4 separate regions of the Homo sapiens genome follow, and regions 1, 2 and 4 are each linked to region 3. The links come from fine-mapping of genetic effects on gene expression. A gene starts in region 3. Each other region holds a variant in brackets. All regions are shown on one strand. Distances are between the middles of the regions. Region 1 has its middle 21 kb from the start of CATSPER4. Region 2 holds the start of CRYBG2 (crystallin beta-gamma domain containing 2). Region 3 holds the start of SH3BGRL3 (SH3 domain binding glutamate rich protein like 3). Region 4 overlaps CRYBG2 (crystallin beta-gamma domain containing 2).

Evidence for each region. PIP is the estimated chance that this variant, and not a neighbour inherited with it, causes the effect. A credible set is the group of variants that fine-mapping cannot tell apart.
Region 1: its variant is the best candidate, but not a certain one, in a credible set for the expression of SH3BGRL3 in whole blood (TOPMed, PIP 0.50).
Region 2: its variant is the best candidate, but not a certain one, in a credible set for the expression of SH3BGRL3 in whole blood (TOPMed, PIP 0.57).
Region 4: its variant is the best candidate, but not a certain one, in a credible set for the expression of SH3BGRL3 in whole blood (TOPMed, PIP 0.79).

The regions. Positions count from the first base shown.
Region 1 is chr1:26,207,471-26,215,202 of GRCh38, forward strand. No RefSeq gene overlaps it. Among named protein-coding and RNA genes, the nearest start is that of CATSPER4, 21 kb to the left of the region's middle. The variant C/T (reference allele first, on the strand shown) is at 4,004.
Region 2 is chr1:26,349,643-26,356,259 of GRCh38, forward strand. It overlaps CRYBG2 (crystallin beta-gamma domain containing 2), which reads right to left and starts at 4,488. Exons shown (of 20, transcript NM_001039775.4): 1 at 4,394-4,488. RefSeq lists an enhancer at 1-573 and a silencer at 1,789-1,987. The variant A/G (reference allele first, on the strand shown) is at 4,114.
Region 3 is chr1:26,275,616-26,283,347 of GRCh38, forward strand. It overlaps SH3BGRL3 (SH3 domain binding glutamate rich protein like 3), which reads left to right and starts at 4,471. Exons shown (of 3, transcript NM_031286.4): 1 at 4,471-4,588; 2 at 5,150-5,317; 3 at 5,443-5,907. The coding sequence starts at 4,541. The coding sequence ends at 5,508. CEP85 (centrosomal protein 85) reads left to right here. Exons shown (of 14, transcript NM_001319944.2): 13 at 920-1,145; 14 at 1,521-3,193. The coding sequence ends at 1,678. UBXN11 (UBX domain protein 11) reads right to left here. Exons shown (of 15, transcript NM_001389556.1): 13 at 7,249-7,322; 14 at 7,034-7,174; 15 at 6,667-6,954. The coding sequence ends at 6,684. RefSeq lists enhancers at 242-1,441, 3,992-4,879, 4,880-5,766 and silencers at 4,255-4,826, 4,303-4,752.
Region 4 is chr1:26,340,713-26,348,444 of GRCh38, forward strand. CRYBG2 (crystallin beta-gamma domain containing 2) reads right to left here. Exons shown (of 20, transcript NM_001039775.4): 2 at 3,033-6,000; 3 at 2,534-2,581; 4 at 2,335-2,447; 5 at 2,042-2,171. The coding sequence starts at 5,945. Among named protein-coding and RNA genes, the nearest start is that of CRYBG2, 9.6 kb to the right of the region's middle. RefSeq lists an enhancer at 5,615-6,368. The variant T/C (reference allele first, on the strand shown) is at 3,844.

The DNA of each region.
Region 1 (7,732 bases), 68 kb before region 3:
TTGAAAACTGCCAAGAGGCTGGACACGGTGGCTCACGGCTATAATCCAAGCACTTCGAGAGGCTGAGGCGGGTGGATCATTTGAGGCCAGGAGTTCGAGACCAGCCTGGCCAACATGGCAAAAACCCATCTCTACTAAAAACACAAAAATTAGCAGGGCACGGTGGCATGCGCCTGTTGTCCCAGCTACTTGGGAGGCCGAGGCAGGAGAATCACTTGAACCCAGGATGCAGAGGTTGCAGTGAGCCAACATGACGCCACTGCACTCCAGCCTCGGTGACAGAGTGAGGCTGTCTCAAAAAAAAAAAAAAGAAAGAAAGAAAGAAAGAAAGAAAGAAAACTGCCAAGAATGCAAAAACAGCACATCAGGTGATGGGCCTATTTCTGCCCATTACCCAGGGGAAAGAAGAAGGTTTCCAAGGAATCCAGCCCAACATAATTGATTTGGGCCTTTCTAGAGAGAGCAGCTGGCTCAACCATGAGAATAAAGCTGTGTTTTTGTAAGGCAGTGCAGTGTGGTAGGGAAGGCATTGGGTTCTGGTGTCTGATGGACTTTGTTTCAAATGCAGTGGCACCACTTCCTGGCTGTGTGACCTTGGACAGATGTCTTCACCTGTCTGATCCTCAGTTTCTTCATTTGATAAATGGAAATAATAGTCCTTTTCTACAGGTTGGTTGTAAGGATTTAATGTGCCTGTGCATTGGAGCAGCACCTTACCTGGGCAGGGTGACACTTGAACAATATCAAAATGATCCTTGACTGCTATGACACTCAATGAAACACTCGGCTTGCAGTTAGGGGTCATATTGTTCAAAAAATTCATATCTTTAGGCCGGGCACAGTGGCTCATCCCTGTAATCCCAGCACTTTGGGAGGCTGAGACAAGCAGATCACTTGAGGTCAGGAGTTTGAGACCAGCCTGGGCAACATGGTAAAACCCTGTCTCTACTAAAAATACAAAAATTAGCCAGGCATGGTGGCTCATGTCTGTAGTCCCAGCTGCTCAGGAGTCTGAGGCAAGAAAATGGCTTGAACCCGGGAAGCTGAGGTTGCAGTGAGCTGAGATTACACCATTGCACTCCAGCCTGGGTGACAGAGCGAGATTCTGTCTCAAAAAAGAAAAAAATCGTATCTTTAAATACTAGAATCATATTCAATGCAGTAGGAAACTAATATCAAACAAGGCATCAAGAAATCAAACACCAATTGAGATAACAGATTTCTGTCTTTTACTGACTTGCACTGTCTAGAGTAGCCATTGAGTGGAATGAGACATAGTTACCTGCACAAGTAAAATTCTCTCTCCCTGGTATACATCTGTTGAAATCTATTGGCACAGAGCTGGCACATAAATGTGAGCTGGTAAGATTTACATATGTATGTAAATCAACACCCACTACATTATATATAATATATATTTATATATGTATATATAATATATATTTATATGTATATATAATATATATTTATATGTATATATATTTTATATATATAATTTTATTTTAGAGATAGGGTCTCACTTCGTCATCCAGGCTGGAGTGCAGTGGCACAATCAGAGCTTGCTATAACCTTAGATTCCCGGGCTTAATCAATCCTCCCGCCTCAGCCTCCCAAAGTGCTGAGATTATAGGCGTGAGCCACTGTGCACGACCTGATATTATTTTTAGGGAGTCTCCCAGTAAGAATATTTGACAAGTCATAACATCTGAAAATAACTCTGGTTTGGTGGAAGGAACAGGTAGATTGCTTTCTCTTTTATTATTTATTTATCTATTTATTTATTTTGAGATGGAGTTTCTCTCTGTCACCCAGGCTGGAGCACGGTGGCATGATCTCAGCTCACTGCAACCTCTGCCTCCCAGGTTCAAGTGATTCTCCTGACTTAGCCTCCCAAGTAGCTGGGACTACAGGCATGGGACACCACACCTGGCTAATTTTTTTTTTTTTCAGTAGATATGGGGTTTCACCATGTTGGCCCGGCTGATCTCGAACTCCTGACCTCATGATCTGCCCACCTCAGCCTCCCAAAGTGCTGGGATTACAGGCATGAGCTACCATGCCCGGCCTCTTTTTTTAATTTTTATTTTTCTCTACTTAGATGGGGTCTCGCTATGTTGAGCAGGCTGGTCTCAAACTCCTGCCCTCAAGTATTCCTCCCATCTCGGTCTCCCAAAGTGCTGGGATTATAGGCATGAGTCACAATACCCAGTCTAGATTACCTTCTGTTTATTTGTTTTTTCACAGGCAGTGTTACAATCTGGGGAGTTGTGTCAAAAACAATACACTCCACAGAAGACTCTGCACCTGAGGAAATTATATTGTGTTCATCTACAACTTCAACTCTGTTTAACAAAGGGAAAGACAATGTCTCTCCAGCTGTACTTAACAGTTCACCAACAACTGACAAGACATCAACATCTGAGTCCCAGAAGCATACAACACCAGCTGCTCCTCCAACCTCTCCACAAACAGCAGCTCTAATGGGTCCACTGAGCAGACAACTTCAATACAAAAAACTCAGGAAGAGAAATTAAACACAACTATCAGCACAACCTCCAAGGGTACACTGCTGCCAAATTCCATCATGACTTCTACATTGAAGGACCAGGGAGGGATATCAAGAACCACAGCTTTATCCAGCACGGCCTCTTCAGTTGAGACCCCAAAACAGAATCAGGAAACTCCAATTATAACTCCATCAGCATCAAACACCACAGTCAATGGGACACAATCATCAGTGTCCATTGGCTTTCAGGAATCAGACACAATCACATCCCCAACAGCACTGAACACACCAGGCAGTGATGTTCAATCATCTGGGTCCATGGCAACCACTGTCTCTGGGAAGTCAGCTATAACTACATCCCCAACAGCAAAGAGCACGCCAGGCCATCATGTTCAATCATCCGGGTCCATGGCAACCACTGTCTCTGGGAAGTCAGCTATAACTACATCCCCAACAGCACTGAACAAAACCACTGGCATAAAAGAATCTTCACCCATGACAGCCAGCGAAGTTATGCACACTACCTTGCTAAACACAACCACTCTCGGGACAACTCTTCTTGGAACAACTACATCTGAGACTCAGGAAGGAAAAACTACAGCTGCATCCTTATCCCCAACAACCACCTCCATGATAAGCAAGTTGTCTGGAACACATCATAACACAGTCTCACAGACACCTTCCCATCTGGCAGAATCAACCTCCAGTGTTGCCACTGCTATAATCCAGTCACATGAGATGACAGCTGCTCATTCCACAGGCCTTCTCCCCAGGTCCTCGGAAACAACAAAATCCTCTGCTGTAACTGGGGCCAGTCAAACCTCCCCTAAACACACCCAGAGTAGTGGTCCCAGAGTTGGAGCCTGTGCTTTGGATGAGTATGCAGGTAGCAGGGGAGTTTGTATGTGCAATGACAGCTACTACTTCCACGCGGGTAAGTCTGAGGAACTCATGTGAGTAAAACAAAGAAGAGGTGGGGGCCAGAGTGGACACCATAATTCTGTGAAGTCTCAAAGGGTCCAAAGGGTATGAGAGGGCCAGTGAAGTTTGGTAAGACGTTGGCATCTTCTGAGTCCACCTGGGTAGAGGTGATTTCTGGTGGGAAGACAGGCAGCTGGGCATATGGGATAGAGTGCACAATTTTTCAGCTCCAGCCCCCAGGACTCTAGCTACTGTCCAGAGATGAAACTTTCCTGGGGGAAGGAGCTGCACCAAAGACAAGAACTGTAGTTCCAGCGGAGGCCTGGAAGGCCAGGTGGAAAAACTAAGGCAAAAGTCTGACTGTTGGGGCAAGTCAGTGTGGCAGATATTACAGAAAGGCTGAGTTCACAGGGCCTCCGACAGGCAGTGCCACAAACTCCCAGATCCATCCTCTGCAGGCCTGAAGCTGGGTCTAAGACAGCAAAAAGATAATAATATCCCCCAAACATATGTTCTTCACGGTTGAAATAATTCTAACCTCTCCTCCCCCAAGCATTTAAATTTAACAAGTCTGGG[C/T]GCAGTGACTCATGCCCGTAATCCCAGCACTTTGGGAGGCTGAGATGGGAGGATCACTTGAGGGTGGGAGCTCAAGATCAGCCTGGGCAACCTAGTGGGATCCCATCTCTACCTTTTTTTTTTTTTTTTTTTTTGAGACGGAGTGTCATTCTGTCGCCAGGCTGGAGTGCAGTGGTGCAATCTTGGCTCACTGCAACCTCCGACTCCCTGGTTCAAGCGATTCTCCTGCCTCAGCCTCCCAAGTAGCTGGGATTACAGGCACGTGCCACCATGCCTAGATAATTTTTGTATTTTTAGTAGAGAGGGGGTTTCACCATATTGGCCAGGATGGTCTCAATCTCTTGACCTTGTGATCCATCCGCCTCAGCCTCCCAAAGTGCTGGCATTACAGGCGTGAGCCACTGCGCCAGACCCCTGTCTCTATTTTCAATAAAATATAATAAAATATACTTAACAAAATTCTGCTTTTCCTAAAATGACTATTGTGTCTTTTTTTAAAAAAATCTAATTCCTTTAAAAAATATTTCTTTGGCATTCCTGCCTTGGTCTATTGGGTAGTCCTGCCTTGGGATGAAGCTTTTGTTACATGCAAAACCGGCAGTGCTTAACTTATGGGTCACTGTTTTCCAAAATGTATTTCCTGGGACACCAGTGCTATGTGATTGCAATAGACATTTCACTTAAAAAAAAAAGTTCTATTGTCATATACATTTGGGAAATGCTGGATTCAACAAAATTGTGTCTCGACTGAAGAACTTTTCAGAGCCTTTAATATTCCACTGTTTCCTGTGACTTCCTAGCAGCAGATTATAGCATATATTTCCTAAGATTATTTGTTCCTAGAATCCTCATTCTAAGGAATGTTCATGCAGCACCTTGGGATATCTATTGCAGAGCAGGGGAGCTAAGCAGGGCTGTGCAAGGTAGAAGTCCAATCCAGGTGGTTTTTAGTCAAGCCTTGAGGCAGATGCTGGCCCATTAGAGGGTTGTCACTACCTCAGCAGACTCTCAGTAAAACCAGGGTTATGTGCCAACTTGTACATGCTGCATGTGCCCCTCCACAGAAAATATGACGTACATCATCGAGTTTTTACACATTGAGAATGAGACAGCTTTTCCTTTTGTGTTATTTCTTTCCCCCTGTGGGTAAGAAGAACATGGGCTCTGCCAGATAAACTGGGTTTGAACTGTGTCTCATTTTCTTTCGCTAGGTATACGACTGCATTTACCTACCAGCTATTATTAATATGATTTGGCACTTTGTATCACAATATACGATTGACTGCAATTGACTGCAACAACAGAATGTTACGTGACTGACAAACTCCCCCTCCTCTCAACAATACGCATTGATGAATATAAAGCATCTGCTCTTTTTTTTGTTTTGTTTTTTTGAGACAGGGTCTTGCTCTGTTGCCCAGGCTGGGGTGCAGTGGCGTGATCACAGATCACTGCAGCTTGGACCTGCTGGGTTGAAGCAATCATCTCACCTCAGCCACTTGAGTAGCTGCAACTACAGGTGCACACCACCACACCCAGCTAATTTTTAAAATTTTTCGTAGAGATGGGGTCTCACTATGTTGCTCAGGATGGTCTTGAAGTCCTGGGTTCAAGTGATCCTGCCACCTCAGGCTCCTAAAATGCTAGGATTATAGGCGTGAACCACTGCACCTAGCAGCATCTGCTCTTAAGTTACAGCTCATCCCTCTGACCAAATATGCCTGCCAAAATAGAAACAGTAAACTTTAAAAAAAGAAAGAAAATTATATTTAAATTCAAAGTAATAAAACAAGTCCAGAAGTGTTTTGCATTGGTATTTCCATTATGTTTTACTTTTTACCATTATTATTATTATTTTATTATTTTTAGGACAGGATCTCACTCTGTCACTTAGACTGGAGTATAGTGGCATAATTATAGCTCACTGCAGCCTCAAACTACTGGGCTCAAGTGGTCCTCCTGCCTCAGCCTCTCCAGTAGCGGGGACTACACCTGGCTACTTTTCTTTTTCTTTTTTGTAGGGACAAGGCTCTTGCTATTGCCCAGGCTGGTGTCAAATTCCTGGCCTTAAGCAATCCTTCTGCCTCGGCCTTCCAAAGTGCTGGGATTACAGGCATGAGCCACTGTGTCCAGCCAGTTTTCCATTTTTTTTTTTTTTTTTTTTTTTTGAGACAGGGTCTTGCTCTGTGGCCCAGGCTGGAGAGCAGTGGCACAATCACAGCTCACTGCAGTCTCGACCTCAGGGGCTCAAGCGATCCTGCCACTTCAGCCTTCTGAGTAAATGGGACTATAGGCACATGCCACCATGCCTGGCTAATTTTAATTTTTTTTTTTTTTTTTTTGGTAGAAAGGGAATCTCCCCATGTTGCCTAGCCTGCTCTTCAATGCCTGGATGCAAGCGATCCTCCCGCCTTGGGCTCCCAAAGTTAACTTTTTTTTTTTTTTTTTTTTTTTTTTTTAAGACGGAGTCTTGCTCTGTCGCCCTGGCTGGAGTGCAGTGGTGCAATCTCGGCTCACTGCAAGCTCTGCCTCCCGGGTTCACGCCATTCTCCTGCCTCAGCCTCTCTGAGTAGCTGGGACTACAGGCGCCCACCACCACTCCCGGCTAATTTTTTGTATTTTTAGTAGAGACGGGGTTTCACCGTGGTGTCGATCTCCTGACCTCGTGATCCACCTGCCTCGGCCTCCCAAAGTACTGGGATTACAAGCGTGAGCCACCGCGCCCGGCCATAACTTTACTTTTAAATTACTAACTTTTAAGCAGTTCATTCAAAATTCAATAGAAAGTATGAAGAGAGCAGATGCAAAAAGAAGGGAAGGTTAAGTATTAGCTTCTCATTCATCACTCAAATAGCACTGGTATTTGGCATGTATCAGTTAGGATACTTTGTGTTGCAAGTAGCAGAAACCCAACTCTAATTGGCTTGAGTAAAATACATAAATGTTTTTTAAAAATTGAAAACATGAGCCTAGCCAACATAGGGAGACCCTGTCTCTACCAAAAATATTGAAATGAGCCAGTGTGATGGCATGCACCTGTAGTCCCAACTACTTGGAAGCAGGTGGGAGGATCACTTGAGCCTAGGACTTTCAGGCTGTAGTGAGCCAAGAGTATGCCACTGCATTTCAGCCTGGGTGACAGAGAGAGACCCTTACTCAAAAAAAAAAAAAAAAAAAAAAAAAAAGGAAAACATGAGGCCAGGCGCAGTGTCTCACGCCTGTAATCCCAGCACTTTGGGAGGCCAAGGTGGGTGGATTGCTTGAGTCCAGGAATTTGAGACCAGCCTGAGTAACATGGCGAAACCCCATCTCTACAAAAAATACAAAAATTAGCCAGGCATGGTGGCATGCCTGTAGTCCCAGCTACTCAGGAGGCTGAGGTGGGAGGATCACTTGAGCCCAGGAGGTGGATATTGCAGTGAGCCAAGATTACACTCCAGCTTGGGCGACAGAGTGAGATCCATCTCCAAAAAAAAAAAAAAAAAAAAAAAGAAAAGAAAAAGAAAACATGAAACAAAATAAAACAAACTTTGTTGGCTCATGAAACTGGACCTGCAGACTCTGAAGCCCCTCCCTCCAGGTTCTCAAGCACCCCCATCCTTCCCTCAGGGCTCTCTTCCATGAGTTTAGACTTCTCCAGACTGAAAGAGTCATTGACTCCAAGCAGTCTAGGCCCCTCGAAAAAACTACAAGGCCTGGCTTCCAGATTGGAATAGGAGGAAAATCACA
Region 2 (6,617 bases), 73 kb after region 3:
ACTCATGTTGAAACTTAATCCCCAATGTGGTAATATTGAGAGGTGGGGCCTCTAAGCAGTGATTGGGTTATGAGGGCTATGCCTCATGAATGGATTAATATACTCATGGATTAATAGATTAATGGTTTAATGGATTAATGAGTGATCATGGGAGTAGGACTAGAGGCTTTTTTTTTTTTTTTTTTTTTTTGAGACAGGGTTTTGCTCTGTTGCCCAGGCTGGAGTGCAGTGGCACAATCTCAGCTTACTGCAACCTCTGCCTCCTGGGCCCAAACAGTCCTCCCACCTCAGCCCACCGAGTAGCTGGGACTACAAGCCTGCACCGCTATGCCTGGCTAATTTTTGTATTTTTTGTAGAGTTGGGGTTTCACTATGTTGCCCAGTCTGGTCTCAAACTCCTGAGCCTAAGAGATCTGCCCACCTCCGCCTCCCACAGTGCTGGGATTACAGGTGTGAGCCATTGTGCCTGACCGGACCAGTGGTTTTATAGGAAGAGGAAGGGACACCTGAACTAGCACCTCAGCCCCACTGCCATGTGATGCTCTGAGCCCCCTCGGGACTCTGCAGAGAATCACCAACAAGGTTCTTACCAGATGCACCCCCTTGACCTTGGGCTTCCAGGTTCAGGTATTCCATTATAAGCAACAGAAAATAGACTAAGCTCCCTAGGAACTCTCAGGTGAATTTCTCTGTTTTACTAGTTGCAACAACAACAAAAACAGCCATTTGGGGAGGGCTGACTCTGCCAAACACCTTGCTAAGTGCTTTAGATTCATTGTCCCATTGAAGCCTCAGAAGAATCCCAGGAGCTTGAGACCTCATAAAGAATAAATTATTAATAAATTAGATCATACCTTCCCATTTTGCAGATGAGATTTTTTAAATGCTCAGAGAGGTTAAGAAACTTGTCCAAAGTCACAGAGTAACCGAAACAAGACTTGAACCCCAACCCTAAGTGCTCACTCACCATACCAAACTCCCTAATATATGTATCCTATAACTGAGTCTCTGGTTTGGGGGTTTACATTTACAGGGAGCCATGTCAGTCCTGGAGGGCGTCTCCACCCCCACTCCCTGACTTCCAAGCTACACTGACCAGGGCAATCCTATTCTTAGGCCCCACGAACCCCAGAGAGGCCAGCCTGTTCAGCCCGAGTCTTTGGGCCTTCTCCATGAGGTACCCTCCCCTCCCCAAGAGACCTGACTCTGGGCAGGAAATGGACCCACTGCCCCCACTCCCCTCCCCCATTTCCCATTGTCCTCCTTCCTGAGAAGCTGGTGGAATTCAGAACTTTGACCCTTCCCTGTGGCCACAGCAGTGACTCAGGCTTTATGAGGGGCAGAGATGAAAGAGACTGAAGCCCCGGGAAGCCTGACCTGACTCCAGGACTGCTGGTGGCTATGACAGTGTCAGGGACAGGGTCCAAGGGGGACTGGAAGGTGGAGGGGTTAGGTAGAGCCCTGGTCATTTTCCCAGGCCAGGGCTTCCTGAGAGCAGTACACAGCCAGACACCAAAGGCTCTGGATTTTAGCCTCTCACTGAGGCCCCAGCCCACTCCCCTGTCCCCATTAGGGAGCTCCCTTTTTCCTCATGCAACCCCTGCCCTCCTCGCTGGGACTCTGCCCAAATGAAGTTTGACGCCCTCGCTGAGCACCTCCTAAGCCCCTGTCCACCTGCCTTCCACTCTCCGAGCTTCCTTGTCTCTGATGGTGCTTATAGTAAGTGGCAAAGCTTGAGCTCTAACTCATTCATTCATTCATTCAATTACTCACTCATTCAGTGCTAATTGTATCAAGGGATGTGCTAGGCCTTGGCTAGACTCAACCAGAACCAGAGCCAACTTTCTCATGAAAGGTGGCATATTAAGAAGCCAGGGGCCAAGGAATTAGACATAAAAACAGGGACATTTGGAAAGCGCCATAGGCATCAGGAAAGCGACAGGAGAGCAATGTTAAAGGAGGCGGCCGATCATGAGATCAGATATTGTCGATGACCTCCTACCAATCAGAATTTAACGTCTTTCTCAACCAGCCCAACCCCTGGACAACACCCCTGATAGCCAGTCATTCCACAAGCATGTGGTCATTGGCTTCTGCCTGCATACCTCCAGGGACAGGGAGGTCACCACTCGACAGTTCACCTGCCCCGTCCCTGAACAGTCATGAGTGCTAGAATGTCCTTCAGACTCTGCTGGAATGTGCCTGCCTATAGATGCCCCCTTTTGTCCTTGCTCTGAAGACATACCCCAATACAATGACCCAGGATGCCTCTCCTGGGCCAGCAGAAGGGGCCATTCCCAGAGCCCTTTCTTCTGCAGGGCCCCAGACCAGAAGTGGATTTGTTGGCAGCGTGACCTGTGACCTCCAAACAAGGCGTGTGGAGCTGGGAAGGGAGAGGCTGAGGAGGGGGCGGGGGGAGTGTGGGAAAGAGCCTTGTCTAACCCAACAAGTCCTGGATTCTCCCCACTTACCTGTGAGTCACCCCCAAACTAGGCCAAACCAGTCCACAGGCCCACATGCAGGCAAACACATGCTGTGTCACACAGACGCAGGCACAGACACACAGACAGATACCGACACAGACCCACAATCACACAGGCACAAAGATACACCTAGAAGCCTATAAAAACATACACAACCAGGGACACACACACAAATATACACTCACCCAAGAAATACAAACACGCACAGGCACTCAGAGCCACAACAGACACACAAATCACATACAGACAGAAACACAGGCACAGTGACACACACGTGCACACATTCACAATACACACACAGTCAATTCACAGCCCCAAGCTCTCTTCCCCTTGAAATTCACCTACCCCTGAACGTGGACACACACGCTTGGATGCACACGTATCTTACACATTCCCACTGGCAGTCCCAGCTATGTCTCACTTCTTCTCGACTCCCATATTTGCCAATCTTGGCCCAGAGAACCTTCTCCCAGGAAGGGGACATAGAAGGATGATGTTTCTGGAGGTCACCTGCCCCCCACTCTAAGTGAGCCCTAGCCTCCCACCTGAGTCTGTCATTATCCACCTGGGCCCAAAATACCCAGGTAGTGGCAGATAGAAACCACCTCCCCCCAGCTAACCCTACTTCTCTTTCCCGTCCCCCTCTCCAAGGTAGCCTCCTCCACCCCCCTTCCCTCTCTCTGCAGCCCTTGTCCCCCAGCCCCTGACTTCTGGGGCATCCAAGCAGGTCTCAGAGCCAGCCTGGGTCCTACATCTCCCTCTTCCTTGGCACGGAAGCAGTCACATTGACCCCTGCTTGGAGGACCCCAGCATTCCTGATTCTGCCTCTGCTACTACAATGCTGCCCAATCCACCGCCATAGGAGCCTAGAAAACCCTGGAGCCCACACAGCAACCTCACTCAACCCTCCACTCTCTGCACAGGGCCAAAGAGGTTTCTTCCAGGCAGGATGGAGCAGTGGTTAGAGCACAGGCACTGGAGTTATAGAAACCTAAGTTCAGATTCTAGCCCCTTCACTTTCTAGTTGACTTTGAGCAAGTGACTTTCAGAGCCTCCTAGAATTAGGTGACAGGGGTTGGGATCAGTCCCTACTCATGGGATGGTTGGGAAGATTAAATAAAATTATGCTTAGAAAACAAATTGCAAATGACAGCCACCCCATCATCCTTAAGCACCCTTCAAAACCCCACCCCAGGCTCATTTCCTCTTCAGGGTCATCCCTGGGAGGTTCCATGTTCATCCCTCCTTGATGAGCTTTGGGGGACATATCCTTCCACCTCTGCGCCCCCCAGGCAGATTTAGGAGAGTCATTTCAACACAAATAAAACTAGGCTTGGGAAACTCGACACCCACTCCTTTGGCTTCCAGCTCAGAGCCAGGTGGGGTAATTATTGCTGTCACTGAGACGTAATTAATAAGCATCCCTGCTATTTTGGCACCCCCAGTCTCTGGAGTTCAAAGTATATTCCTGTAGCCACCTCCTCCTTCCTCATTTTCAGCTACCAAATCCTCTCAACAACTCAAGGCCCAGAGAGGTTAAGCAACTCGCCTCAGGACACCCAGCACCTAGGCTGGGTGCCAATTCCCAGGCTGAGTCTGTGGCCTCCTGAACAGAACTGGGGAGTGGTGT[A/G]TGCTGTGAAGAAGGCAACCCCCCTTCCTGCCCATCCTCTCCCTGACAGACTTTCCCCTTTCTCAGATGGACAGTGGGGGTGAGAAGCAGTGGGTTCCAGGAGGTAGCCTGTGGGCAAAGGGAGGGAGAGGAAGGCAGGGTTGGAGCAGGGAGGGAAGGCAGAGTCGGCTCAGGGTCCTGAATGAATGGGCCTAGAGCTGGAGAGGCCCAGGGAATAGGCAAAGTCTCAAGACAGGGCAGCCAGGCCAGTCTCCCCTCCCATCTCCACACACAGACCGACCTCTACTCACAGTCTGCGTGGGGACCCAGGTGTCCAGCCAGCCTGGAGCTCCTGCTGCTGGGCCGTGCTCCCCTGATGCGATTGGGCTCTCAGCTGGGGTTCCTGAGGCGGGGCCGTCCGGCACCCTGTGATGGGGCGTGGCCCCTGGGGAGGCTCCCACCAGCCCTCAGATTCCTCAGGGCCGCAGAGGTGTGGAGCTGGTTGGGCCGGTTCTTCACCCTCCTCCCCTGGTGCTTGCCTGTGCCCCAGCAGGGTGACAGTGATGTAGTAGCGGGTCCTCCTGGAAGAGGGACGCGTGTGTAGGGTCTGGGCAGGCTCTGGCAAGGCAGTCCCTGGGGTGGCGGGCTTGCCCTTTGTCCCCTCTGCCCTGGGGAAGGATGCAGGGTGGAGCAGCAGGGGTGCGTCTTCCAGGTTGCTGGGTGGCTCAGGCCTCAGAGGGACCTCTGAAGCTGTGGGTGGAGACTGCTGACAGGTGCAGCCTGAGGATCCCTGCTCCCCATGTCCAGGAGCAGGCCCTGGGTATTGGGGGAGCCTGGTACGAGCAGACTCTCCTGAGGCCACTTCCAGGGCCAGGCTCTCAGGCCCCAGGGAGGCATGGCTGGCCAGGTCGAAGGCGCTGCCCACCGCTGGCCTCTGTAGGCGCCCCAGGGACTGAGCAGGACCCCCCGAGATTCCTTGTTGCTTCCAAATCCAGAAATCATCATGGTCCCCTACATGGATGTCCCATTCTGAGCAGCTCTGGCCTTGGGCCTGGGTGAAAACAGAGATAGACACTGAGAGAGGCAGGGGCATAGTGACAGCTCCCCCTGCCCTCCAGGCACCCCTGGTACCTGGTATCTTCCCTGTCACAAGGAAGCTGAACAGGGCTCTGACACCAAGGTAAGCTGCCCTAGGGAGAGGCTGCTAAGGCCACCAGAGCTGGACAAAGGGACAGAGCTCTGGGAAGGCCCTTCAGCATTTAACTCACCCCTTCCCATTCTACGTAAGAGGAAAGTGGGGCCCAAAGAAGACGGCGACATGACTGAGATCACACAGCAAGCCAGCGAGGGCTCCCAACGCTCAGGTGCCGCACTCCCTCCCAGGTGACAAGGCACCCAGGGCCTGGCCGGCCATGCCCCCCAAAGGCTGGAGATCTCAGCTTCCTTGCAGTCCTGAGGTGCTTCCCCGCCCTGGGGCTGAGGGCTGGGTGGGAAGGCCTGCCTCAAGTGCCCATGGCCTCTGCCCATTCCAAGCTAACAGAGAGACTGCGGCCACCTCTCTTGTACCCTCCCAGCTTGAGACAGAACACCTGGGAGGATGTACCTGGGATATAAGGGAGCCAGAGAAGAGGGTTCCCCTGAAATGGGACAACACCTGACCTCTTCTGCTGTCTTCCCCTGGGGTCCAGCCTGGCTGTGGGGATAAGAGGAGAGGGCTCAGCACCCCAGACCCAGATGGACACTGCCCCCAAAACGACCCGTTTTAAAAGATGGGCTGTTTCCTTGGCAACAGAGGAGGTCAAAATTCCGCCTAGCAGGGATCCTTGCTGCCAAATGCCTTAATTTACTCATCTATGAAACAGATGCAGCCTCTCATTCCCCAGGGGCTGACCACCTCAAGAGACAAGAGTACAGTGATGAACCTGGAGGCTTGGATCGAGGCAACCTGGGCTTGAATCTCCGCCCTGCTGCTTCCTATAATAGCTGCAGTACCGTTTGTATTTCAGTTTCCTCATGTGGAAAATGGGTGTGATAATAACAGTACCTGCCTCCTGAGAGTGTGGTACAGATGGTACAAGATAGTCCATGCAGAGGGCCCAACACATGACAAGTAGGCAATTAAACACTGGCAATTACTCATGGTATTCAAGACCCAAGAGAGACACATGGCTGCTTGAGCCACCTCCAGAGGAGGCTGCCCTCACTCCTCCAAGGGAAGAACACTTTTTCACTGTTCAATTCAGGGCTCAGGTCCTTACTGCAGATGAGGAAACTGGGGCAGGAGGTTAAGCCACTAGCCCAGCCTCACCCCTGAGGGGCCATGCCAGGAAGTGGGGAAGAGGGACCAAAGATGGAAGGCGGTCAGGCCAAAGAAGAGAATGGAGAGAAGCGAGGCCCCTCTGCCCCTACATCCCTCCCCAGAAGATCCCAGCTTTAGGAAGTCACATTTCCTGAAAGTCCGGGCCCCAACCATGCGGGATGTCCCATATCCATTACTTTATCTCCCACAACAGCCTTGAGAGTGG
Region 3 (7,732 bases):
CCTTTGTCTTGAAGCCACAGGTTTCTGGGGTTGGGGAGTGGAGAGTTCAAGAAGACTGAGGATTTGGTGGCCTTCATGCACTAAACAGAGCTGTCAGCAGGGGGCAACCAAGTTCACTGACTGGCCTAGTGCCTAGGAAGGAACCTCCTTGAGTTAGGATTGTCACATGGCCCAGTGTGGGTGGAGGGCCTGGGACTGAAGGACGGACTCTATTCAGACTCTATAAAAATACAATCAAGGTAGGAAGGGAAGGAAAGTGGATTAAGCTGTCAGGAAGAGAGGGAAACAGACAGACATACATGAATAGATGGTTTTTGTAATAAAGTCTGACTCCACTGAGGTGAGAGTTTGAAAAGGCAGGACTTGTTCCAGGGCTGGATCCTCCAGGTTCCAGCTTCTCCAGCCCCCCACCTAGTGGCTACTAGCTGTCATATTGTCTTTCTTACTCTCTTTATTCCTCTGACACACTGTGATCAGGCTGGCTGGTGGCCACTTTTGTCAGGGTGGCAGGGAGAGATTGAAACCAGTGTCTCCTCAGATTTCACGGTTCACATTAAGCCTTCTCTAATAGCCTGGCTAACAGAGTTGGCTGAGGGACTGGCTTGAGATAGAGTTCCTAGGGGCGGGAGCATCTTCTCTGGTTCTTGAACAGAAACTTGGATGCTGATGATTCAGAACCAGTTGAGGGTTGGCTTCCTCTCCAGTGCTAGAGCCCTGTGGGCCCAACCTACCCACAGGAAGAACCAGGCCTGATACTGATAGTGGGAGAAGTGCTAAAAGCCTGTTGGCAGGGGTAGGGTTGGGGAAGGAGGGACACTGCCTATGACTCACCCATCCCTTCCACACCCACACACTCATGCACAGATACTCTTCCTCTCCCTGGGCCTGAGTTAATGTGCTTACCCATCTGTCTGCTCAGCTTTCAGTGCAAAACCAGGACTTGATTGAGAAGAATCTGACACTCCAGGAACACCTGCGCCAGGCCCAACCAGGGTCTCCACCTTCACCAGACACGGCCCAGCTGGCACTTGAGCTGCACCAGGAGTTGGCCAGTTGCCTTCAAGATCTGCAGGCTGTCTGTAGCATTGTGACCCAGAGGGCCCAGGGCCATGACCCCAATCTCTCCCTGCTCCTGGGCATTCACTGTGAGTCCTCAGACCAGTCTGGGGCCCAGGAAGGAGGGTCCTTCTTTCTCTTCTCTCCCCCATCCTGCTTTCCCATATTCTTGTGGTAATATGTAGACAGAGTACATAGTCCTGGCCACTGCCCTCTGGACATTTATTTGTTTCACAAAGTAGGTGTTCACAAATCTGTTTTTGGAAACAAGCTATGGGGTACTTGCATGCAGGACAAACTAAAAGTGGACCTTCAGCAGCAAATTAACCCACTGTCCCCAGATGCTTTTTTTAAAGTGCATGTCCCAAGACTGTGGGTTCAAGATACTGCCTATCCATACTGCACCCTCCACATGAAAATGTCTCATAACTAACATTCTCTTGAAATGCTCTTCTCCCCAGCAGCACAGCACCCAGAGACTCAGCTAGATTTGCAGAAGCCAGATGTGATCAAGAGGAAACTAGAAGAGGTTCAACAGCTGCGTCGTGACATTGAGGACTTAAGGACCACCATGTCAGACAGATATGCCCAGGACATGGGAGAAAACTGTGTCACACAGTGAGGAATTCTGGGGGATTCCCCCAGGGAGGAGCTGGGCTGCTGAGAGCCTAGTCCAGCAGGTTTCTGCCCTGACATTCTCTTGTCTGCTATTCCCAGAGAGGTCTCAGAGGGGAGGGGAGAGCCTGCATCTGGGGGCCAAGGGCTGATTAGGGAACTGTGTCCTACCCACACTGGCATGTTGGATTACGTTTGTCCTGTTAATTCACTCTAGACGGTGAGTTACTAATTAACTTTTGGCAGGTACAACAGATAAGTCCTCACAAACTGTTCCCAGCCCTAGGCTGACATGAGAGACGAACAGGCTGTCCACCTTTCTTCTCCATCCAATGGGATGGATCCATGTTCATTCCCACTTCACACCTTGGTCCTGCTGATTAGAGAGCTCATCAGAGGGGCCTGGAAAGGCTGAGCAAGTACCAGTGACAATGGCCATTTAAGAATTCTCAGGCCCCATGTGCCAGCCTTCTTGGGAACTGAGCTGGCTTTCTGGGTTTTCTCATGCCTGGTCTTACTGCTTCTTCCTCAGGGCTCTTGTTCTCCCAGAAGCCTCAGGGTAATGTGTTGGTTAGCACGTAACTACTAGGATTGGGGCCCTAGGGATTATAGCCAGGACTCTAATCTGCCTACCATGCCATTTAACAAGAGATCCCACTCTCCAGCTGCCTTGTGTCCCTAGGGTCCTGGCCATGTGTTTAGTGTGCTAAACTTTCTCCTTTGTTCTCAGGCCTTCCAGGTAGTCCCCTTCCTGGACTTAAGAGTGCAAACTCTTCTCTGTGGTTCTAGCCTTGGGCAGAATTATATCCCAGAGACCACAGAGCAACTGTCAAGCTGCTTACCCCCTCACCCAGGGCTACAGCCTGTGCCCAGCCCTCTAATTTGTGCCTCTCTTGTGTTGGGGGTGGTGGGGGTTATTCCTTTCCCTTTCCTGCTCTGGCCTCCTTGAAAGTTCAGAGTACCCAGTACAAGTCAGCTTTAAAGTACAGCTTTTAGTGTTTCCTGGGTTGTTTCTCTGGGGCTTTAGTGAGGGACCTTTGCCCTCTGGTTTTTCTTGCCTCCTGGTTTAGGGAGCATCTCACACTTGTTAGTATCTGGTTGTTGGGCCAGCCGTGCCTCCTCTAGATCTGGAGCCAGGCCAGGCAGGGGCCACGTGTGGGCCAGTCAGCCACTACAAGATTTTTGCTAAGCTTTGGGCTGTTGGCAGCATCTTGGACCTCATGCCTGGGCCTGAATGAGGCTCTTTCTTAAGTGTTTTTACAAGTTTGTGTTTTATTTATGGAGTGACTTATCCCTTCCATTCAGAGCAGCCCCACCCAGCCAGCCCTTCAGCCTCTGGGCTCCTGCTGCTTAAAGGCAGAGCCGCCTGGTTGGTCTCCACCCTGTGCATTGGGAGCCCAGCCACCATGCTGACGGGTATTTTTCCTCATAAAGTTTATAACCAGTTATTTATATGAATCTTTGTTATGTCCATTTGTTTGTATTGCGTATTTTGATTATAAAATAAAGTATCTTAACAGACTCCTCAGTTTTCCATACCCTTCCATCACCACCACCACGCTATTCTACCCCTCACTTTGGCTTGTTAGAGCCAAACACCTGGGTGTTCAGCCAGGTCCCCCAGGCAGCAGCGTGGAGGAACCTTTGGCAGGTCCAGCCAGCCTCATGTCCCTATCTATCTCTGCCACCTCTGCTCCTCTGTCGTTCTATAGAACCAGATCTCTTCCCACTCACTTTCTCTTGGGCAAACCTTCCCTGAGTCATAACAGAAGTTTGTCACTGGAAAGTTTCAGCAGTCCTCTCAGGAAGTTGGCAGCCTCTGGGTTGCTGTGAGGAAGTGGCTTTACCAGAGCAAGGGTTGTCTTTCTGGGCTGTTAACCTGCCTGAGCCCTGGACCAGGGGGACATCTGAGAAGCATGATGTTGAGTGCCAGACAGCTAGGTCTCCAAAGTTGGGCTCGTTGCTGGAGTCTGCCCCCTCAACCGCTGAATTCTTGCTGGGAGTAGTAGCAGTTTGGGAATGCCATCTGCAGCATGGAGCTGGGGTTGAGCTTGGACCACCCCAAGACCTGGGGTGGATCTTAAGGGTCAGCTTGAGCCTAGGCTCTCGAGTCCTGACATCATCCTCTACCGCCACGCTTTCCAGCTGTCAGCCTTGGTCTCCATCTGGTTCCTTGAGGGTGTGGCCTCTGCGTCCTGCTATCACCCTTCCTTGTCTAAACCTTCCCACCTGAGTGGAGAGGAACTTGGGGGAAAATCTCTAAGCATGGGCTCTTCCTGCTGTCCTATGCTTCCTATCCCCTAGGGTTAGTGGTGCGTGTTGGGTGGTGGAGCGAGGGATCCCTTGGAGCAAGGTTCTTAGAGAACTTTGGGTCTGAAAGCAGCTCAAACCTTCCAAAGCCCCAAGCTTCCCTGTGCTATTAGAGCACCTCCTCCTGGAGAGAGCGGCTCTCGTGGCTGGGGAGTTGGATGCACCAAACCTGTGTGCGGCTGGAGAGGGAGGCTTCTGCCAGACCCTCTCCCGGGCCTGTCCTGCCACCCAGGCCCCTCCCCAGTCTCACACTGAGCTCCAGATCAGGGAAGGGCCGAAAAGGACGATCAGGGCAGCCGCAGAAGGGGCGCCCTGCGTGGGACGGGTCCGTTGCGCGCCTGGTAACCGAGGGGGAAGGGAAGGGGCCTCTGGCGTGCGGGGCGGTGTCGCGCAGGTCCCACCCCGCCTGCCCGCGCCGCCCATTGGTCCCGAGCGCGATGACTTGGCGGGCGGAGCAGGAAGGAAACCGCTCCCGAGCACGGCGGCGGCGTCGTCTCCCGGCAGTGCAGCTGCCGCTACCGCCGCCCTCTGCCCGCCGGCCCGTCTGTCTACCCCCAGCATGAGCGGCCTGCGCGTCTACAGCACGTCGGTCACCGGCTCCCGCGAAGTAAGTGCGCGCCCGGACTGGCGCTGGGGGAAAGCGCAGGGCTGTATCCCGGTGCTTTGGACCCTAGCGCCCGGGACCCACCCCCAGGACGGGGGCGGGGTGGGGGGAGTGCGTCGGCGAGGTGCTGGGCACGGTCTCCCGGACCCGGTCCCGAGGCCCCATCCTGAATGTCTTCATCGGGCATCCTGGGTCCTTTGCAGCCGCGGCATGAACTTCCCGTGCCCATCCCCCATCAACCCCACACCCATTCTCTGCACTCCCACTACCGGGCTGACCCTGACCACGACCGCAGCCTGCCCTCCCCTCCCCTCCCCACCCTGAGCCTGATCCCACTTCCCTTCACTCTGACCCCCTCCCCCGTGGCTGATAATCCCTCTCTTCATCCTGCACCACCTCAAGCCTGACTCATCCTCCCAACTCCTAGAGGCCAGAACCCTCCCCTAGTGTGGAGGGGAATGGGGGGACAAAAGCTCCTGGTCACAGCCTCTCTCACCCTGCCCAGCATTTCCCCCATAAATCCTCCAGCCTATCCACTAACCCCTACCCACCCTCTGTCCCCAGATCAAGTCCCAGCAGAGCGAGGTGACCCGAATCCTGGATGGGAAGCGCATCCAATACCAGCTAGTGGACATCTCCCAGGACAACGCCCTGAGGGATGAGATGCGAGCCTTGGCAGGCAACCCCAAGGCCACCCCACCCCAGATTGTCAACGGGGACCAGTACTGTGGGGTATGGGCTGGGGGACGGGGGGGTGGGGGGAGTGTTGGAAGAGGACTCTAGCCAGGGTCATATCTGCCACAAAGCACTTGGGCCCCCTGCATTCAGGTGACCACCCCTCGCCTCCCCTTCTCCAGGACTATGAGCTCTTCGTGGAGGCTGTGGAACAAAACACGCTGCAGGAGTTCCTGAAGCTGGCTTGAGTCAAGCCTGTCCAGAGTTCCCCTGCTGGACTCCATCACCACACTCCCCCCAGCCTTCACCTGGCCATGAAGGACCTTTTGACCAACTCCCTGTCATTCCTAACCTAACCTTAGAGTCCCTCCCCCAATGCAGGCCACTTCTCCTCCCTCCTCTCTAAATGTAGTCCCCTCTCCTCCATCTAAAGGCAACATTCCTTACCCATTAGTCTCAGAAATTGTCTTAAGCAACAGCCCCAAATGCTGGCTGCCCCCAGCCAAGCATTGGGGCCGCCATCCTGCCTGGCACTGGCTGATGGGCACCTCTGTTGGTTCCATCAGCCAGAGCTCTGCCAAAGGCCCCGCAGTCCCTCTCCCAGGAGGACCCTAGAGGCAATTAAATGATGTCCTGTTCCATTGGCACTGTGTCTGGTTGGTTGTGGCCTGGGCCTCCTGGGTCCCTGCCCTGGGCAAGGTTGGTAGTTGTGACTGTGCTGAGACTGCTCTGTGGGAAGGGTGGCTGAGCTGTTCTCTTGTGACTGTCACCTCTGTGTTTGTTAGTGCATGTGTTTGGATATGTCTGACACACAAATACCTGTATGGACCAGTGGTTTCTGGAGATGTCTGGGTGGGCCACCCTCCAGTTCACATGCATGTGTCCATATCATGCTTGTGCCTTGGTGTGTAGTGCACATCTCCATGCCTGTCAGTGAGTGTGGCCATCCCATGCGCCTGTGTTGGAGCACAATGGCTAAGAATGAGTGTATCATGGGAGGTGGGTACCCAGCTGCAGTTCTGCTAATTTGGGGGCATGGGTCTAGTGGCAAAATGGCTTTGTGCGGTGTTGAAGTGTCCCCACGAGTTGGTGGGTCTGTGCCTGTGCACAGGTATCTGCTGGCTGCACACATACACAGTGAGGCTCTGCTGTCCCAGCTGAGAATGTAAACCCAGCTGGGGCCAGCTCCTTCCCCCCACTGCATCCCTCCCTTCACAGGATCCACTTAGCCCTTCTTGGGAGAAAGAGGAACCTAGAAGACAAAGACCCAGCAGCCAGGCCCGCCAGCCGGGGCTCGAGTTACCAAGGGGCGGGTCGGCACCGCCCCCTCCCTGGCCCAGCTGGTCCCAGGCCTTTCCTACGTGCCTGGCGAGATGGCCCACCCAAGAGCCTGGCGGAGCAGCGGGTTGAGGGGGCGGGTGCTTTATTGGGGGCTGGGACTGGGTCCAGGACAGGGACTGGGGCCGGGACCGGGACCGGGACTGGGGCCGGGACCGGGACCGGGACTGGGGCCGGGACCGGGACCGGGACAGGGACCAGGACTGAATTTCAGGCTGGACTTCGGGGCTCGGCGTGCCCGCAGCAGCAGTGCTGCTTTGGGCACAAGGCCTGCAGCCTGCAGCGTGAGTGTATCGTCCTGGTAGAGGGTGGGCGGGAATGTGCTGAAGATCTCAAAGGCAGAGGCATCCATGACCCTGGGGACCAGGCAGAGCAGATCAGGCTGGGCAGTGGGACCAGAGCCCCTCTGTGGCCCTGGCCCTGCCCTGCACCCACCTGGCCTGCGCTAGCAGAGCTCGCACGTCCCCAATGGTGTTGTCAGGCTGCATCATCAGTAGGAAGGCCTGTTCCCCATTCTCAGACTTGATGCGCAGCATGGAGAGCGGGGGTGCCGGCGTGTTGGGTGACTCCTGGCTCCTGCACAGCCCAGAGGCCATCAGCACGCGGTGACCCAACGCCCCCAGGCCCTCACCTCCTCATCCCGCCCTCACCTCTCTCGCTCAGCGGCCAAGGTGGGCGTCTCCACCACAATCTCCTGGATCCGGGCAGGCAATGGGCAGCAGTTCTGGAAGGTATCAGTGGAGGGTGGACAGAGCCCTAGGCCCCATTTGAGTCATCCCCACAAACCTTAGAGGGACACTTCCTTGACCAGGGACAGATGAGACCAGTGAGCAAAGCGGGAGGGGGTGTTCTGTATAAACCAAGGCCAGAGGAGAGGCAATGGAAGGGGAAGAAGGTTCTGGGAGGCAGCCCCATGGTTCCCCCCAGGTAACCCCCCGTTTCAGTCTAATGGAGACAGAACCCCACACAGACGATGATCAGGCTGGAAGCCCACCCCAGCCTGGGGTCAGGGAAGGCTTCCCTCGGAAAATGACAACTGAGCTGTGACTGAAGGATGAATGGGAGTCCTTAGAAATGGAATGGATGCAGGGATATTCCAGACAGCATCAACAAAGATCCTGGGTTCAGGGAAAG
Region 4 (7,732 bases), 65 kb after region 3:
AGCGATTCTCCTGCCTCAGCCTCCCAAGTAGCTGGGATTACAGGCACCCGCCACCATGCCCGGCTAATTTTTTGTATTTTTTTTAGTAGAGACAGGGTTTCATCAGGTTGGCCAGGCTGGTCTTGAATTCCTGACCTCAGGTGATCCACCTGCCTCAGCCTCCCAAAGTGTTGGGATTACAGGCGTGAGCCACCGCGTCCAGCCTCTGGAGAGGCTTTGTAAACTATCCCCTCCTCCTGGGCCACTGTCCTAGTTAAGCCTAATGAGCGCTCATCATCTCCTACCAGGAAGATTGCAACAGCTCTGGACTCAGTTATTCATTCTTTCATTAGAAACGAAAATCAGGCCGGGCGCAGTGGCTCACGCCTGTAATCCCAGCACTTTGAGAGGCCGAGATGGGTGGATCACGAGGTCAGGAGATCGAGACCATCCTGGCTAACACGGTGAAACCCCGTCTCTGCTAAAAATACAAAAAAAAATTAGCCGGGCATAGTGGCAGGTGCCTGTGGTCCCAGCTACTTGGGAGGCTGAGGCAGGAGAATCGCGTGAACCCAGGAGGCGGAGGCTGCTGTGAGCCGAGATCATACCACTGCACTCCAGCCTGGGCAACAGAGCGAGACTCTGTCTCAAAAAAAAATAAAAAAATCAAACAAACCAAAAGAACCAAAATGCCTGATAGACACTGCTTTTACAGTCATTGCTCTTCCTTCTCGTGTCAAGCTTAATTTCAGTAGTTTATTACTGTGCGGTGAAAACAATGTTGTTGTTTTCACAGCACAGCACATGAAATTATAATTTTTTTTTACTCTTGTTGCCCAGGCTGGAGTGCAATGGCATGATCTCAGCTCACCGCAACTTCCGCCTCCCGAGTTCAAGCGATTTTCCAGCCTCAGCCTCCTGAGTAGCTGGGATTATAGGCGCCCACCATCAAACCTGGCTAATTTTTGTATTTTTAGTAGAGACAGGGTTTCACCACGTTGGCTGGGCTGGTCTTGAACTCCTGACCTCAGGTGATCCCCCAACTTGGCCTCCCAAAGTGCTGGGATTATAAGCGTGAGCCACTGCGCCTGGCCTTTGAAATTATAATGTTAACTTTTCAAACCACACAGCCCTTCCTCAAAAATTAGAGGTGCCCCTGGCTGGAAATCACAGCCCTTCTTGGTCTCCCTGCCTCCAGGATCCCTCTTTTTTCCACCTGGCAGCCAGTGGGATGTTTATAAATCCCTAGTCTGGCTATATGGCGTCCCTGCTCCAAACCCAATCCTCACAGCCTAGCTTGACTGTAAGTCCTGAAGGGCAAAGAGGAGATCTCCCCCCACTGCCTATTGCCTGGCACCGGTGCCTGGCACATATTAGACATGAGTGAGCATCTGTGAGCAAATGAATGAGCAAACATGCCTGGCACCTCGGGTCTGACTGGGGGCCTGCATGCTGGCTCCTGGGGGGCAGGTAACCCCCACGTTCCCTCCCATCTTGTCTCTGCTGCTCTGTCCCCTTCCTGCTTGAGCATCCACTCAAACTTCCCCAGGCTGCTTTCCCAAGCTGAGCTTGGCCTCTGCCTGGGCCCTGACTCCTCAAGCCAGGCTGCCCATTCCCCAGAATCTCTTTCTTCCCCAGTCAGCTCCACGGTCAAGAATCTATGGACCAGTCCACATTAAGCCCCTCTGCCCACTACCCCATAAGATCTCTGCCAGGAATTTCTTTTGAAACGGAGTCTCACTCTGTTGCCCAGATTGGAGTGCAGTGGTGCAATCCAGGCTTACTGCAACCTCTGCCTCCCGGGTTCAAGTAATTCTCCTGCCTCAGCCTCCTGAGAAGCTGGGATTACAGGCGCATGCCAGCACACTCGGCTAATTTTTGTATTTTTAGTAGAGACGGGGTTTCACATGTTGGCCAGGCTGGTCTCCAACTCCTGTCCTCAGCCGATCCACCTGCCTTGGCTTCCCAAAGTGCTGGCATTACAGGCGTGAGTCACTGCTCCTGGCCTCGGGGATTTCAACTCTAGGCACTCGAGGCCGTCTCCCACCTCCAACTCACTCACCCAGACAACCCTCCTTAGGGAGCCGATGCCTTGGGGACTCCACTTTGTCCCTGGGGTTCTGAGTTCCATGTCTCCTTCAGGCAGGACCAGCTTCTGACCCCGGAACTCTGGCTCTTCGTACAGCACCCAGCTGTGGGCACAGAGATTCCAGGATCACAGATGGGGAGGAGGATGTGCCCAGGGCTGCTGGGTAGCTGATGGGGTTTCTCCCAGGCTGGACTGGTCACTCCTCACTCCCCTCTGCATCCCCCCAGGTTCACAGCCAAGTGCCTTGCTGGGCACTCCCCACTCACCAGCCTCGAACTACCCTTATGGAGGCTACGGGGGCCCAGCCTGAGGCATCAACGATGTCTCCCCAGACCTCCCTGCCACTGCCTTGGCAGCCAGACTCTGAGAAGAAGATCACCTGAGAAGGCACAGAAGGGGTCCTCAGGCCCTGACCCCAGGCCCCTGCATCCTGCTGCCCCCACCCACTTGCCCCCACAACCCTACCTTTCCAGGCCTGGTGTTCAGCTTGCCCTGGGTCTTTAAGGCTGGGCTCTGAAACGGAGGCAGGTGATAAAGAAGTCCTGTGGGGTCACCTCTTTTCTGCCTCCCCACAACCCGCCATTCCAAGGATCCCACATCCTCCCTATTAACCTCCACCCGCAAGGAGCTGGCGCATAGAGGATGCTCACACTTGTTCCCAACCCCCAAGGGCCTCATCACCCTGTCCCAGGAGCTTGGTGCTCATCACCCGCCTTCCTCAGCTCCCAGGATCTTGGAGCCCCCACACCCTTTGGAATCCACAGTACAAACCTCCCACAGTAGGGATAGGGATAGGGAGATTGAGGCCCAGAGAGATGTGGCTTGCACAGGTCAACTGAACCAGACTTCAGACAGAAGCCTCTGCCCCCAGACTCTGACTCCCAGCACCACTCTCTTCACACCACTCAAGCCTTGACCCAGGTGAGGCCAGGCACCTCCCTTGCCCACCCGAGGCCTCACTTACCCACCCCTCCAGGGGCAGGGAACAGGCAAGCTTCTCCGTTGGGGATGATCTTTCACTGCAAAGCAGGGGCAACTGTCCTGGCACCTTCCTGAGCCCCGGTGCCCCATGGGGCAGCAGAGCAGATAGTTTTGTGCCCAGCGGTTCCGGGGTGGAGGCCTCCTTGGCGGTAGGCACCAGACTGCCGAACAGAAGGCTGCCTCCAAGACGGGAAGTGGGCCTGCTGCCTCCCTGCAGTTCCAATCCCAGCTCTGAGTGGGGGCCCTTGGTTCCTGCTACATGCTTCTTCATCATCTCCAGAGGAGAGCAGGAGACCTGGGTGGGTCTGGCAGGGTGGAGGTCCCTGGAGGGGCTGGGCCCAGCTTTCTCCTGCCTGCGCTGGAGCTTCTCATCGTCACTCAGATAGGGGTTCTCTGGTTCCTCCTCCTCCTCCTCCTCTTTCTCTTCCAGTGAAGGCACCTCCTGGGGTCCGGGGCCCAGCACCCATGGCCCCAGCTGGTCCTCCTCAATGGCAGGCAGCGTGGCGTACATGGACAGGTAGGAGGAGCGAGGGGCTCGTGGCAGCCGGTGAGTGCGGAGGATCTCAGGGGGCTCCATGCTCCGCAGCGTATCCAGGAATATCTCCAGGTCAGCGGCCAGGGCCACCTCATCCTCCTCCCTTGATGTCTCTGTGCACGTCTTGCCCTCGGTGGGATCAGAGACAAGCTGGGACTCCGTGCTGGCCTCTGCTCCTGTTGGCACTGGGGCAGGGGTGCCTCCTGGGCTGGGGGACACCCTGTCCACTGAGGAAGATGGGGCAGGGAGAGCATCAGGG[T/C]CCTGCACAACCTCTTTCTGGGTGAGAGATGAGATGGGGCTCCCTTCAGAGTCCTGGACCCCCTTATCCTGTTTGGGGAGTGAGGTGGCAGGAGCAATTGGGCCTTGAACAGTCTCTTCCTTGGTGAGGGGCGGGGCAAGGCTGCCTGCAATACCCTGGACAGCCTCTTTTTGGATGCTACTGCTGCCTTTTGGGCCCTGGACAACCTCAGTTGACTTGGGGGACAAGGCAGCAGGAGCACCAGACCCCTGCACCACCTCCTTCTGGGTGGGAGATGAGGCAGCAGGAGCACAGGGGCCCTTCACAACCTCTTTCTGGGTGGGCGATGAGGCAGCAGGAGCACCAGGGCCCTTCACAACCTCTTTTGGGGTGGTGGACAAGGCAGCAGGAGCACCAGACCCCTGCACCACCTCCTTCTGGGTGGGGGATGAGGCAGCAGGAGCACCAGGGCCCTTCACAACCTCTTTCCAGGTGGGAAATGAGGCATCAGGAGCACCGGGGCCCTTCACGACCTCTTTCCAGGTGGGGAACAAGGCAGCAGGAGCACTGGACCCCTGCACCACCTCCTTCTGGGTGGGAGATGAGGCAGCAGGAGCACCAGGGCCCTTCACGACCTCTTTCCAGGTGGGGGACGAGGCAGCAGAAGCACTGGACCCCTGCACCACCTCCTTCCGGGTGGGAGATGAGGCAGCAGGAGCACCGGGGCCCTTCACGACCTCCCTCTGGGTAAAGGGGAGGACAGGGACATTTTCAGAGTTCTGAACAAACTTATTCCTTGGGGACGATGGAGCAGAAAGACCTCCTGGGCTGGGGACATCCTTCCTTCTTGTAGTGGATGGAGCAGGAGGTTGTCCAGGGACTGTCACATGCTCGCTCCTCACCATGGGCAGGACGGTGGCAGCAGGGGGGTCCACGGGCCCGTCCTTTTTTTTAGGGGGCAGAACAAGGGGAGTGAGCCGGGCCCCGGGGTGAGTGGGCACCACAGGCTGCTTTGCAGGGTGAGTTAGGCCAGGAGAGGGGACATGGGTCTCGAGTCTGGGAGAGGAGGGGACTGATGCTTGACCCTGAGAAGTCTGGAGAGGGAGCTCAGTGGAACTGGGGGCTCCCAGCACCTGCCAGAGCTCACAGGCCCTGGCATCCGGGGCTCTGCCCTGGTCTCTGTCCGGACAGGCTGCAGGGGCATCCTGATTCTTAGGCAGGTGAGCACTGGCTGGGATGCCTGTAGAGGCCAGGGCAGAGCTGTCTTTAAGCTCTGCTGTCCCGGTCTCAGGCAGCTGCCTCAAGGCTGCCCCCACTGTGCTGCCCAGACCTGTGCTCCTTGGCCCGCCAGCCGTGGGCCTGGGCAGGTGACTGGCAGGGGGGCTGTGCCCAGCAGGCACGAGGTTACTTAGCACTTTCACGGCCTGGCTGCGGCTGGGCGAGCCTGGTGGGGAGCCCACCACCACTGGCGGCACCATGCGGGAGACCTGACGGCCCCGTGGCAGGGCCTCGCCTGAGGACACTGGCCTCACAGTCACAGAGCTGCTCATCCGCCGGTCCACATGACCTCCCACCACTGTGGTGGTCCGCACAGTGCGTGTCACTCGGTATTCCTCGAGGCTCCGGGAGCTACCACTGGTGAGACCTACACCTGGGTGGGGACTTGGCTCTCGGGGCCCAGGCAGGGGAACCAAAAGCTCAGTCCTGGCCATAGCTCCCACACATGGGGGCTCAGTCCTGGGAGCTTGGCGGCTGCCATCACTCTGGTCCACAGCCTCCTTCAGCCTCCCCTCAGGCCTTTTCTCCTTGGGAGGTGGTATGTACTTCTTGGAAAAGATGGGTCCATGGCTCTGGAAGTTCTTGGAGCCAGCTGTATCCCGAGGGCCCTGGCAATTCACAGTCTCTTCTTCCTGTGTTGCAAAGCCATTGACTTCCACTTCCTCTCGACGGCTGAACTCAAACATCTCCTTCTGCGGGGCTTCCATCTGGGCCCCTGACACCAGGGACACCTTGTGAAAACCATGTTTGATCTCTTCCTGGGTGGGGGGCCGCTGCCGCCATGTCAATGTGGCACTTACCACTCGGGCCTTGGCCCGGGCCATGGGCCCACCTGCCTCCTCCATGTGGGGCCCTGGCAACCTGTCTGGAGGTGTCCTTGTCCCACTGTGGTCCAGCTCCCTGCAGAGGAATAAGAAAGATGAGGGTCAGAGGGTGGTGAGAGTGGCTTCCTAAAGTGCAGAATAACCACCCCTACCCAAGTCAGGCTGGGAACCTCAGGCAAATCGCTTGGCCTTTTTGGGCCATTGCTTTCTCATCTGTGAAATGGGCATGGTAGTCTCAGCTCTGATTTGGTTGATCAGAGCCCCTCATCCATCCCTCTCCCTGACTTTCAGGTGATCTCCTAGGTCAGGGTCCTTCAAAGGTGAAGCTGAGGCCTGAGCCCAGAAGGAGAGAAAAGGAAGAAGGCAGAAGGGAAGATGCAGCTGACCCACAGGTCTATAGGGGGGCTGGGACTCTGCCCACAGAGCCCTAGGTCTAGTCCCCCAGGAGCTGAAAACTAGAAAGCCGAAAACTGGGCAAGCGTTGTTCTAACTCTGTTCAGGGAAGATGGGCTTTGGCCTCAAGCAGAGCTGGGTTCCTTAGTTGCTCACTAACTGGCCATTTCTTCTGTTCAAGCATCAGGGTCCTCAGCCACAAAACTGGAGTCTTGCCAGAGTCCAGTAAGAGAAACAATGAAACCTCCCCCTGCGTTTTTTTTTTTTTTTTTTTTTTTTTGTGAGACAGAATCTCACTCTGTTACCCAGGCTGGAGTGCAGTGGTATGATCTTAGCTCACTGCAGCCTTGAACTCCTGGGCTCAAGTGATCCTCCTGCCTCAGCCTCCCAAGTAGCTGGGACTACAGGCACACGCCGCCACACCCAGCTAGTTTTTATTTATTTATTTATTTTTATTTTTATTTATTTATTTTTTTTGAGACAGAGTCTCGCTCTGTCACCTAGGCTGGAGTGCAGTGGCATGATCTCGGCTCACTGCAAGCTCCACATCCCTGGTTCACGCCATTCTCCTGCCTCAGCCTCCCCAAGTAGCTGGGACTACAGGTGCCCTCCACCACGCCCAGATAATTTTTTTGTATTTTTTGTAGAGACGGGGTTTCGCCGTGTTAGCCAGGATGGTCTTGATCTCCTGACCTCATGATCCACCCGTCTTGGCCTCCCAAAGTGCTCGGATTACAAGTGTGAGCCACCGTGCCCAGCCCCAGCTAGTTTTTATTTTGTACTTTGAGGTCTTGTTATGTTGCCCATGCTGGTCTCGAACTCCTGGGCTGAAGTGATCCTCCCACCTTGGCCTTCCAAAATGTTGGGATTATGGATATATGCCACTACTGTGCCTGGCCTAACTTTTTATCTTTTTATTTTAATTTATTTTATAAGACTGAGTCTTGCTCTGTTGCCCAGGTTGAAGTGCAGTAGCTCACTGTAGCCTTGAACTCCTGGGCTGAAGTGATCCTTCTGCGTTAACTCTCCAAGTAATTGGGACTACAGGCACATGCCACCACACCCAAAATGCTCGCCTTATAACCTAAATTGCTGGCTCATCAACTTTCTGCTGTCACCTTGGAGATTTGTGACCAAATGTTAGCTGGTGTGCACACGTGTGTATGGGCATGAGCACCTGCTGATGGTCTCCAGAGCACAGGGGCAGGTCTGTGTGCAAGTGTAGGTCTAAATGGAGCCTCTCAGAGCTGGATGCAGTGGCTCACACCTGTAATCCCAGAACTTTGGGAGGCAGAGGTGGGAGGATTGCTTGAGGCCAGCAGTTCTAGACCAGCCTAGGTGACATAAAAAGACTCTACAAGTCTCTACAAAAAATTAAAAGAATTAGCCAGCATGGTGGTGTGTGCCTGTAGCCC